Homo sapiens: one gene and its partners. The protein of the gene in region 1 purifies or fractionates together with the protein of each later gene. This does not show direct contact. Each region holds a gene or a part of one and is shown in the gene's direction. Other genes may lie near its edges. The genes, in order: XKRX, UBXN7 and SPRTN.

The links.
Region 2: the proteins of XKRX (region 1) and UBXN7 purify together in Homo sapiens (affinity purification with mass spectrometry; one large-scale study listed by BioGRID and IntAct). This does not show direct contact.
Region 3: the proteins of XKRX (region 1) and SPRTN purify together in Homo sapiens (affinity purification with mass spectrometry; 2 studies listed by BioGRID and IntAct, with this or other methods). This does not show direct contact.

The regions. Positions count from the first base shown.
Region 1 is NC_000023.11:100,918,801-100,922,456, reverse strand, and holds part of XKRX (XK-related protein 2), read left to right. Parts: intron 1-3,656.
Region 2 is NC_000003.12:196,366,326-196,369,981, reverse strand, and holds part of UBXN7 (UBX domain-containing protein 7), read left to right. Parts: intron 1-470; coding exon 471-561; intron 562-1,826; coding exon 1,827-1,954; intron 1,955-3,656. UniProt on the Homo sapiens protein: Ubiquitin-binding adapter that links a subset of NEDD8-associated cullin ring ligases (CRLs) to the segregase VCP/p97, to regulate turnover of their ubiquitination substrates.
Region 3 is NC_000001.11:231,341,234-231,344,889, forward strand, and holds part of SPRTN (DNA-dependent metalloprotease SPRTN), read left to right. Parts: intron 1-3,656. UniProt on the Homo sapiens protein: DNA-dependent metalloendopeptidase that mediates the proteolytic cleavage of covalent DNA-protein cross-links (DPCs) during DNA synthesis, thereby playing a key role in maintaining genomic integrity.

The DNA.
Region 1 (3,656 bases):
GTCACAGATAAACCTTCTCTGGGCCCAGAAGAAGCTAGTAATACCAGCAGTCAGTAGGATATTTTCCCTTGCCCAAAATGTTTAAATTATGCTGTTGTTTTGTTTGTTTAAGGATGGCAGTCTTTAATAAGAGGTTCCCAAATAGTACTGATCATCAGAATCATGTGATGAGCTTCTTTTTGAAATTATATTCACTCCCCAGACTTGAATCAATCTTAATATGTATTTCTAAAAGGTACCCAGTTGATTTTGATCAGCCACATTTGGGAACCAATGATTTAATCATTTCTGCTAATGCCAGTGGAGAGAAAGAAAAGGAGCGTGGGCTGGGCACGGTGGTTCAAGCCTGTAATCCCAGCACTTTGGGAGGCCAAGGCGGGTGGATCACAAGGTCAGGAGATTGAGACCATCCTGGCTAACATGATGAAAACCCGTCTGTACTAAAAATACAAAAAATTAGCCGGGCGTGGTGGCAGGCGCCTGTAGTCCTAGCTACTCGGGAGGCTGAGGCAGGAGAATGGCGTGAACCTGGGAGGCGGAGCTTGCAGTGAGCCGAGATCGCGTCACTGCACTCCAGCCTGGGTGACAGAGCAAGACTCCGTCTCAAAAAAAAAAAAAAAAAAAAAAAAAAAGCGTGGGGTTAATACTAATGAGAGTCAGGCCTGGACCAAGTTCTGACCTTCACTGTGATCTTTGGAGGAAGTTACAAAGCAATCACTGACCTAATTTCCCACTTGTAGAAGAGGGATCCTGAAATGAGTAAGACCTCTAGCAGAAGATGAAATGTGAGTCAGTGTTTTCAAAGTTGAGATAAATTGTTGTTAATGAATTTTAACAGCCTGAGATTTGCTTCATCTGCTTGGGCAGGCACTGGTATAGGTGTGGGTACAGGTTTGGACCATTTCCTATTAGATTCTAACCCTGTTTGGCAAAGTCCCATGTCTCAAATAAGGTAAGGAGAAAATTTGCCCTCTTTTGTCTTTTTTCCCCACTCAGAATTGTTCTTGAAGTTCTGTTGGTCTTGAAGCTTTTCACATACATAGTAGTTTGAGGAGAAAACTCTTTGGAAATGATGATGCTTTTCCTTTAAATCATCTAATAAAAATAGGTGTACATTACGGCTGGGCATGATGGCTCACGCCTGTAATCCTAACACTTTGGGAGGCCAAGACAGGCGGATCACTTGAAGTTGGGAGTTCAAAACCAGCCTGGCCAACATGTTGAAACCCCATCTCTACTAAAAACACAAAAAAAATCAAGGATGGGCATGGTGGCTGATACCTGTAATCCCAGCACTTTGGGAAGCCGAGGCAGGTGGATCACCTGAGGTCAGGAGGTTGAGACCAGCCTGGCCTGGCGAAACTCTGTCTCTACTAAAAATACAAAAATTAGCCGGGTATGGTGGTGGATGCTTATAATCCCAGCTACTTGGGAGGCTGATGCATGAGAATCACTTGAACCTGGGAGCCGAGATCTCACCGTTGCACTCCAGCCTGGGCAACAGAGCGAGACTCTGTCTCAAAAAAAAATTCAGCCAGGCGTGGTGGTGGGTGCCTGTAATCCCAGCTACTTGGGAGGCTGAAGCAGGAGAATTGCTTGAACCTGGGAGGTGGAGGTTGCAGTGAGCTGAGACTGCACCACTGCACCCCAGCCTGGGCGACAGAGGGAGACTCCCGTCTCATAAATAAATAAATAAATAACAAAAGTAATACATGCACAAAATGACATATAAGTAATTGTATTTGCACAGAAAATTTCTGGAAACTATGCAAGAAACTACCTCTGCGGAGTGGGAATGAAAAGTCAGCAGTCTTACTTTTTAAAATTCTTCTGTATGGTTTGAAAATTTTTTTTGTGATCATGCATTACTAGTTTTGGTCTTTATCTTTTTTTAATTACAAAAGTCAGACATGGTTATAGTAAAAATTAAAAACCATACAGAATAGATATAAAATAGGAAACGTAATCTCACTCCCCAAAGATAACCTCTGTTAATCATCCAGTATATATCCTTCTGGACTTATTTTTACTATGTAAACATAAACATACATACAATATATATTGTACATGTTTTTGCCCCAAAATGGACTGTATGAAACATTCTGTCAACAAAGTATTTTTCAAAAGTACAGTATGCCAGTATGTCTTTTCTCAAGTTATTTATATATACATGTATAACAATAATAAATATATAATATACATTTCCTTTATATGAATTAGACTTTTTATTCTCCTAATTTTCTATTGATAGGATTCTATTGATTGTCTCAAAAAGGAAAAAAAAAGGTAGCACAACCTCCCCTAGTTATTTTTTCCCCTCATTACAACCTCCCTTCTCAGGACAGCTTTAGTTAAGTTCCCATGATGCTTTACTTCTGCAGATGTTTGGAGGCCATGAGTAAGGACTTCACACTGTGGAAGAAAGAGGGGCAGCAGGAGCCCTATGTCAGCCTCACAAATTTTAATTTTTCACAAAAAAGTTGTTTCCTAATTGCAAATTATGCCACAGTAAACATCTTTATAAATACCTGTGTACATGAATGAGACTTTGTAGGATAAATTTATAGCAGTAGAATTGCTGGGTGGAAGGATATGTATGTTTAAAATTTTATTGATATTGCCAAATAACTCTTCCAAAAAGATATATGAATTTATACTCTCACCAACAGTATACAAATGTGCCTGTTTCTGTTTCTTCATATCTTAAACTCAATATTCTTTATTTGTATAATTATAAAATAATTGGCTTTTAAAATAATTGACTTTTAAAATAATTCGCTTTCTTTGGTTATGAATGAAGCTGAGCATCTTTTTGTGTTTGGTCATTGTGTGTTCTGTGAATTGCTTGTTTATATATTTTACTCGCTTTTTCTAGTGGGTTGTCTTTTTCATATTAATTTTTAGGAGCTATTTACTTATTCTTGTTATTAATCCTTTCTCTGCTGTGAATATGTATGCATATATTTGTATAATTTTTTGCTTGTACATACACACATTTTAAATATGTATATACATGTCATACGTGTAATATGTGTGTGATATATTTAATATCCACAATACACTTTGTAGTATCTTCTGGCATTCTGAAGTATTACATTTTTATGTATTCAAATTCTTTATTGCTTTTAGATTTTGTGCCTTTCTTACAAAGGCCTATCACATCTCTCATCTGGTAGAACAATTTTCCCCAATCTTTTAAGTAGATTAATTTTCAAGATAATTTTTTAATTCATCCTACAAAAAACAAAGCAAAATAATAACAGCAAAAGAAAAAAACATTTCATTGAGATTCCGATTGAGATTTGCATCAAATTACTTAGGTTATTTTGGGAGAATTTACATCTTTATAGGATTGTTGGATTTCATATTGTGAAATGATAAATCTCTCCATTTTATTAAATATTTTAACATGTACCTCAGTAAAATTGTATAGTTTTCTTCAGTAAAGTTGTATAGTTTTCTTGCTATGAGTCTTACATTTTTATAAGGCTTACTTTCAGATGTTCTATCAGTTTTAAAATGACCTGATTTTCTAAGTAGCAGGATAGTATCCAGGTAAAGTAAACCCACCTACCATACTTTTGGAAATAGGGGGATGATGAAGATGACAAAGAATAGGAAGAAAGAGGAGGAGGGGGAGGAGGAGAAAAAGGAAA
Region 2 (3,656 bases), on another chromosome or scaffold:
ATTTTTGTATTTTAGTAGAGACGGGGTTTCACCATGTTGGCCAGGATGGTCTCAATCTCCTGACCTTGTGATCCACTCGCCTCGGCCTCCTAAAGTGCTGGGATTACAGGCGTGAGCCACCATGCCTGGCCCATAATCTTAATATATTGTGATTTATTAAGATGTATATGGTTGAGAGTTATGAATGACATAGTTGACAGATAACTTGAGCAGGAAGAATAATACCTCATCTGAACTGGGAAAGGAGGAGGAATGGGTCAATATGTTTATGGTAAATTTCCAGAGAGTGCTGGAAGTGGGAAGTTGAAGGAGTTCAAACCAGATTTATTTTCTTTTTAGTGTAGGAGTGAGATCTTAATACATAGGCCGGAGGTATATTTGGAGAGCTAATTGATGTTGGTGTATAAGAAGGTTATAGTTGGTTCTTTTCTTAGAGGCTGACTTTTTTTTTTATATCAATGATTTAACAGGTTTATCATGACAGTGAGGAAGGTCAGAGATACATACAGTTTTATAAGTTAGGGGATTTCCCCTATGTTTCCATATTGGACCCACGGACAGGTAAGATTTATATCAGCACGCAGCTTTTAACCTATTACTTGTCTTTCAGTTACCTAAATGATTGATCTTTAATATTTGACTGGATCTGTTTTCAGAATTGCAGTAATTTAGGTGAAGGTTTCGTTTTTTTCCCTTTATAATTATTTAAACATCTATTGATGTATGTATTTAGGACATCTTTTTCTGGCAACATTGGGAGATGGTAGTATTTTATGTTTGTGCAGTTCTGTTCTTTTGAAGAATAACTGATATGTTCATCTTACCTTTTTTAAGGGATTTTTTAAAAGTTTTTTTACCAGCTGGGCGTGGTGGCTCATGCCTGTAATCCCAGCACTTTGGGAGGCCGAGGTGGGCGGATCATGAGGTCAGGCGATCCAGACCATCCTGGCTAACACGGTGAAACCCCATCTCTACTAAAAATACAAAAAAAATTAGCCGGGCATGGTGGCGGGCACCTGTAGTCCCAGCTGCTTGGGAGGCTGAGGCAGGAGAATGGCCTGAACCCGGGAGGTGGAGGTTGCAGTGAGCCGAGATCGCGCCACTGCACTCCAGCCTGGGCAACAGAGTGAGACTCCATCTCAAAAAAACAAAACAAGACAAAAGTTTTTTTTATCATTAAAATATTAAGATTGCCCAGATACTAGTTGTAATCCCACCTGAGAAGCAGAGGGTGGAGCTGGTTTTATTAATTGATGGTGTTTTATATAGATATTGCTTTGTCTGAATCTCTTCTTCCTAAATGGCAGTAAGTGATAGCAGCAGATAAGATAGTTGCCCTATCATTACGGGTGGGAATCTGTTAGGTGAGTATAATTGATGTGACTTCTAGGTTATGAAGACACTATGTAGCATAAGCTGGTGGAGAGGATATGTCTTTACAGTACACTTTATGCATGTGCTGAAAGAGATACTTAATGAGAATGTTCAGAAAGATCCTAGATATTATATTTACAGATCCTGGTTTTTAATGTATGCATATGCTGAAAGAGATAATGAGAATGTTCAGAAAGATTCTAGATATTACCTTTATAGATCCTGGTTTTTAATCTATGCATATGCTGAAAGAGATACTTAATAAGAATGTTCAGAAAGATTCTAGATATTACCTTTATAGATCCAGGTTTTTAATCTATGCATATGCTGAAAGAGATACTTAATGAGAGTGTTCAGAAGGATTCTAGGTATTATATTTATAGATCCTGGAGAATGTTCAGAAGGATTCTAGATATTATATTTATTTATAGATCTTGGTTTTTAATCCTTAGGTCAGAAGCTAGTAGAATGGCACCAGTTAGATGTATCTTCTTTCTTGGACCAAGTGACGGGATTTCTGGGTGAACATGGACAACTGGATGGACTTTCTAGCAGTCCCCCCAAAAAATGTGCCCGTTCAGTAAGTATAATTAGGAGGTGGTGATGGGAAAATAAATGTAATTGGTCATAAGCATCTTATATAAAATGTTCGATGTTAAGATGGTAAAGATAATCTAACTAGTGGACAACTATCACTGTGGCTATAGCATCTTAGATATCCTCCTTATATTTTGATAATTTCCCACATGAGAGTTCCATCTTCTTGGTGAAATCATGATACTCATACTCCTGCCAGTCTGTCTTGCAGCTAGAGTGCAGGCAGATGCCCCAGGATCTGGATTTAGAAGGAAGCAATGTGAATAGGTTGGGCAGGAGGACTGACCTGGCAAGCCTAGTGGTAAAGGTGTCTACTTCCTGAGGGGCAGCTCTGGGAGGGCTTCTGATATCCAGGTCTAAATAGCAGTGAAAGTGGTTGGTTTTTTTGTGTGTTTTGTTTTTTGTTTTGGAGTGGGATCTTGCTGTTTTGCCCAGACTGTCCTAGAACTCCTGGGCTGAAGCAGCCTTCTCACCTCAACTGCCCGAATAGCTAGGACTACAGGTACATGCCACCACAGCCGGCTGGAAGTGGTGTTTTTTGTTTTTGCTGAAACAACTGTCATGGTATAGTTGAGCATTTTTATTGGTTAATATAGCTTTAGGGCCTGGCTCTCTGGCCCTCCTAGAATTTACTTCTATACTTAATTTCTAGAATATACTATTACTAGGTAGACATGTTTGATAATTGGTATCAAGATTGGTTGCAAATAAGAGACTGAACTTGCAAAGATACAGCAATCTCACATTGGTTTTCATGGCTGTTTGGCTTTGATAGCAGTAGGGATAAAAATAGTTTTGTTTTGTTGGTTTTTTTTTTTTCCTTTTTTTGAGCCAGAGTCTTGTTCTGTTGCTAGGGCTAGAGGGCAGTGGTGTGATCTTGGCTCACTGCAACCTTCGCCTCCTGGGTTCAAGCGATTCTCCTGCCTTGGCCTCCCAAGTAGCTGGGATTACAGACGTACACCACTGCATCTGGCTAATTTTTGTAGTTTTAGTAGAGATGGGGTTTCGCCTTGTTGGGCAGGCTGGTTTCAAACTGCTGACTTCAAGTGATCCGCCCTTCTCGGCCTCCCAAAGTGCTGGGATTACAGGCGTGAGCTAACGCGCCCGTCCTGTTTTTTTCTTTGGGCAGGATCTTGTTCCATTTCTCAGGCTGCAGTGCAGTGGTGTGATCATGGCTCGCTACAGCCTCCACCTCTTGGGCTCAAGCGATCCTTCCACCTCAGCCTCCTAAGTAGCTGGGACCACAGATGTGCATCACCATGCCAGCTAAGCTGTTAAAGTTTTGTAGAGACGGAGGCCTCCGTATGTTGTCTAGGCTGGTCTCAAACTGGCCTCAAGCAATCCTCCCGCCTCAGCCTCCCAAAATGTTGGGATTCTGGGTGTGAGCACCACACCTAGCAACATTTTTATTGTATTGTATTGTATTTATTGTATTGTATTGTATTTTTTGAGATGTGGTCTCACACTGTTGCCCAGGCTGGACTGCAGTGGCATGATATTAACTCACTGTAGTCTTTGCAGCCTTGAGAGAACTTTAAAAAAAAAAAAAACTTGCTAGCCTTGAACTCCTGGGCTCAGTCAATCTTCTTGCCTCAGCCTCCTGAGTAGCTAGGACTACAGGTGTGCACCATCATGCCTGGCTAATTTTTTATTTTTTGTGGAGGCAGGGTCTCAATATGTTACTC
Region 3 (3,656 bases), on another chromosome or scaffold:
TGAGGAAAAGTAATCATCCAAACACTTAAAAGCAGAAAACTATTGTGGCTATAAGGTTGAGTACTCATTATCCAAAGTGGGACCAGAAGTGTTTCAGATTTTTTTTTTTTTTACTTTGGAATATTTGCATTATACTTACTGGTTGAGCTTCCCTAATCCAAAAGTCCCAAATCTGAAATGGCTTTAGTGAGCATTTCCTTAGAACTTAACCTTTAATCATCTTGTAAGTGCTCAAAAAGTTTTAGATTTTGGAGCATTTCAGATTTTGGATTGTCAAATTAGGGATGTTCAACCAGTATTAGTATCAGACTAAAGACTTCAAGGGAAGAAGTTTTACTAGAGGAAAAGTGGGATATTTTATAATAATAAAATAATCTATTAAGCAACAATACATAATCTCTCCAAAAGTAATAACATAACTTTAAATTTTATGAGGCATAAATTAGCAGAAGCAAAAAGAATATACAATCAGGCTGGGTGCGGTGGCTCACGCCCATAATCCCAGCACTTTGGGAAGCTGAGACAGGCGGATCACTTGAGGCCAGGAGTTTGAGACCAGCCTGACCAACATGGTGAAACCCCGTCTCTACTAAAAATACAAAAATTAGCTGCGTGTGGTGACACAGCCTGTAGTACCAGCTACTCAGGAGGCTGACGCACAAGAATCGCATGAACTCGGGAGGTGGAGGTTACAGTGAGCCGAGATCACACCACAGCACTACAGCCTGGGGTGACAGAGCAAGACCCTGTCTCACTACAGCCTCAACCTCCCAGGCCCAAGCAATCCTCCCGCCTCAGCCTCCCAAAGTGCTGGGATTACAGGTGTCAGCCAAGACACCCAGACTCATACTTGAAGAATGTTAACACAACCTTCTTAGTAACCCAATGAATAAGCGGAAAAAAATAATACACATTTTAAAAAGTTGAACAGCATGATTAACCAAATCAGCCTTAGAAGGAGCCCTAACTGGAAGAGTTGCTTAATGAATATGTATTGGGTAAATGATTACATAAACACATGAGAAAAAAATGTTTTTAAGTAGTGGGTGAGAAGAGAATGGGGAATGTATAATAGTATCAAGTGAGCATTTCCTGTTGGCAGAAAGTTACAAAATGACATTTTCGTCAATGACAGGCCCCATATATAACAGTGGTCCCATAAGATTATAAGACCATATTTTTATTTATTTATTTATTTTTATTTTTTGTTTTTTGAGATGGAGTTTTGCTCTTGTTGCCCAGGCTGGAGTGCAATGATATGATCTCGGCTCACTGCAGCCTCCGCCTCCCTGGTTCAAGGGATCCTCCTACCTCAGCCTCCCAAGTAGCTGCGATTAAAGGTGTGCGCCACCACGCCTGGCTGATTTTTGTATTTTTAGTAGAGGCGGGGTTTCACCATGTTGGCTGGTCTCAAACTCCTGACCCCAGGTGATCCTTCTGCCTCAGCCTCCCAAAGTGAATGGGATTACAGGTATGAGCCACCATGCCCGGCCAGGACTATATTTATTTATTTTTTTTTTGAGATGGAGTCTCGCTCTGTTGCCCAGGCTGGAGTACAGTGGCGCATCTCCACTCACTGCAAGCTCCGCCTCCCGGGTTCAGGCCATTCTCCTGCGTCAGCCTCCCACATAGCTGGGACTACAGGCACCCGCCACCATGCCAGGCCAATTTTTTGTATTTTTTTTACTAGAGACGGGGTTTCATCATGTTAGCCAGGATGGTCTCAATCTCCTGACCTCGTGATCCGCCCGACTCAGCCTCCCAAAGTGCTGGGATTACAGGCGTGAGCCACCACACCTGGCCAAGACTATATTTTTATTGTACCTTTTTTCTTCTTTATATTTAGTTGCACAAATACTTACCATTATGTTGCACTTGCCTACAGCATTCAGTACAGTAACATCCTGTGCAGGTTCGTTGCCTAGGAGCGGCAGGCTATACTCTATAGCCTAGGTATATATACTCTATAGCCTAGGTATATACACTCTATAGCCTAGGTATATATACTCTATAGCCTAGGTATATATACCCTATAGCCTAGGTATATATACTCTATAGCCTAGGTATATATACTCTATAGCCTAGGTGTGTGTATATATATATATATATTACATAGGCTATACCATTTAGGTTTGTGTAAGTACACTCTTAAGATGTTTGCACAATGACAAAATTGCCTAACAATGGATTTTTCAGAACATATCCCTGCCAAGTGAGGCACAACTGTAGTTACCTAAATCATAGAGAAGGGGGTTCAGAAAAGGAACAGACTTTATCTGGTTGAGGAGGTCAAGAAAAGCTTTATAACTGTACATTTTGTTACTACCATCACCACTCCTGCTGCTCACTATTGAGCACCTATTGTGTGTCAGACTTTGGACTAAACGTCGTCTTTACCACAGCCATGCAAAATGAGGATATCCCATTTTAGGGATGAGGAGCCACTTGGAGCCTGTCCCAGGTCTCATGCTGTGATTGTGGGTTTAGGTTCCAGTTTCCCTGACTCTAAGGCTCTTGTTCTGTCCCCTTTACCATTCAACTCATCACTCCTGCGATTAAAACATGGAGAGGTGAGCATTAAAGGACGAATTGTACTTTTGACAAGCAGAGATAGGACAGGAGGCTACTCTTGGCAGAAAGCATGGGAATAATGTGAACAAAAGTGAGTTCAGACAACTGGGGGCATATTTAGGACTAGAGGTAGTTCATTTTAACCCGATAGAACAGTCATGGAAAACAGAGGTATTTTGGGACTGTGTTGTGTATAGATCCTTGAATTAAGACTAAATATGGAAAATGATAGATATTTAAAAAGTTCAGTACCATTTTCAAGATGTTTTTTAATGTTTAATTAAATTGAACCAAAAATCAGGAACCTAAATTTGTTTCTCCTTTATGAGAATAGATCTTTATCATTGCTCTAATTTAGAACATTGAGAAACTTTTGCAGTACCTTTCTTGAATTTGAGTCTTCTTCGTTGAGCGGCATTTACTTGAAAAATAAAGTTCTGGCTGGGTACAGTGGCTCATGCACGTAATCAGATAGATGGATTGCTTGAGCCCAGGAGTTGACCTGTCTGGGTAAGATGGTGAGACCTTGTCTCTACAAAAAATTGAAAAAAAATTAGCCAGGTGTGGTGACATGCGCCTGTAATCCCAGCTGCTCAGGAGGATGAGATAGAGGGATCCCTTGATGCCAGGAATTTGAGGCTGCAGTGAAATATAATCATGCCACTGCACTCCAGTCTGGGTGAAAAAGTGAGACCCCATCTCTGAGAAATAATAAGATAAATAAATAAAGTTCCTTTTAAGAGATACAGTTGATAATTTTTAGAGGGATATATGAATGACCAAGTTAAAATGTTTGATTCTCTCATTTTTCTGTTCAGCATAATTTTATAAGACTAAAATTCATTAATGACAGTCTAGTTCTTCTGATGGAAATTGTTTTTTAAAAAAATTATGGAGGATCATGAAAAAGGTATGTCTTTGAAGATCTTTCTGATTTTTGCTTAAAAAAATTATTTATATTTTTTAGAGCAAAAACCCCAGCAATCTTAAATGCTTTTGTTAATTTTGCACAGAAACTTGTGCATCTTTGGTGTGGAATGAGCAGTAGGTTTTAGTGTTTGTTTCAAGTTTTCATGATTTCTGAA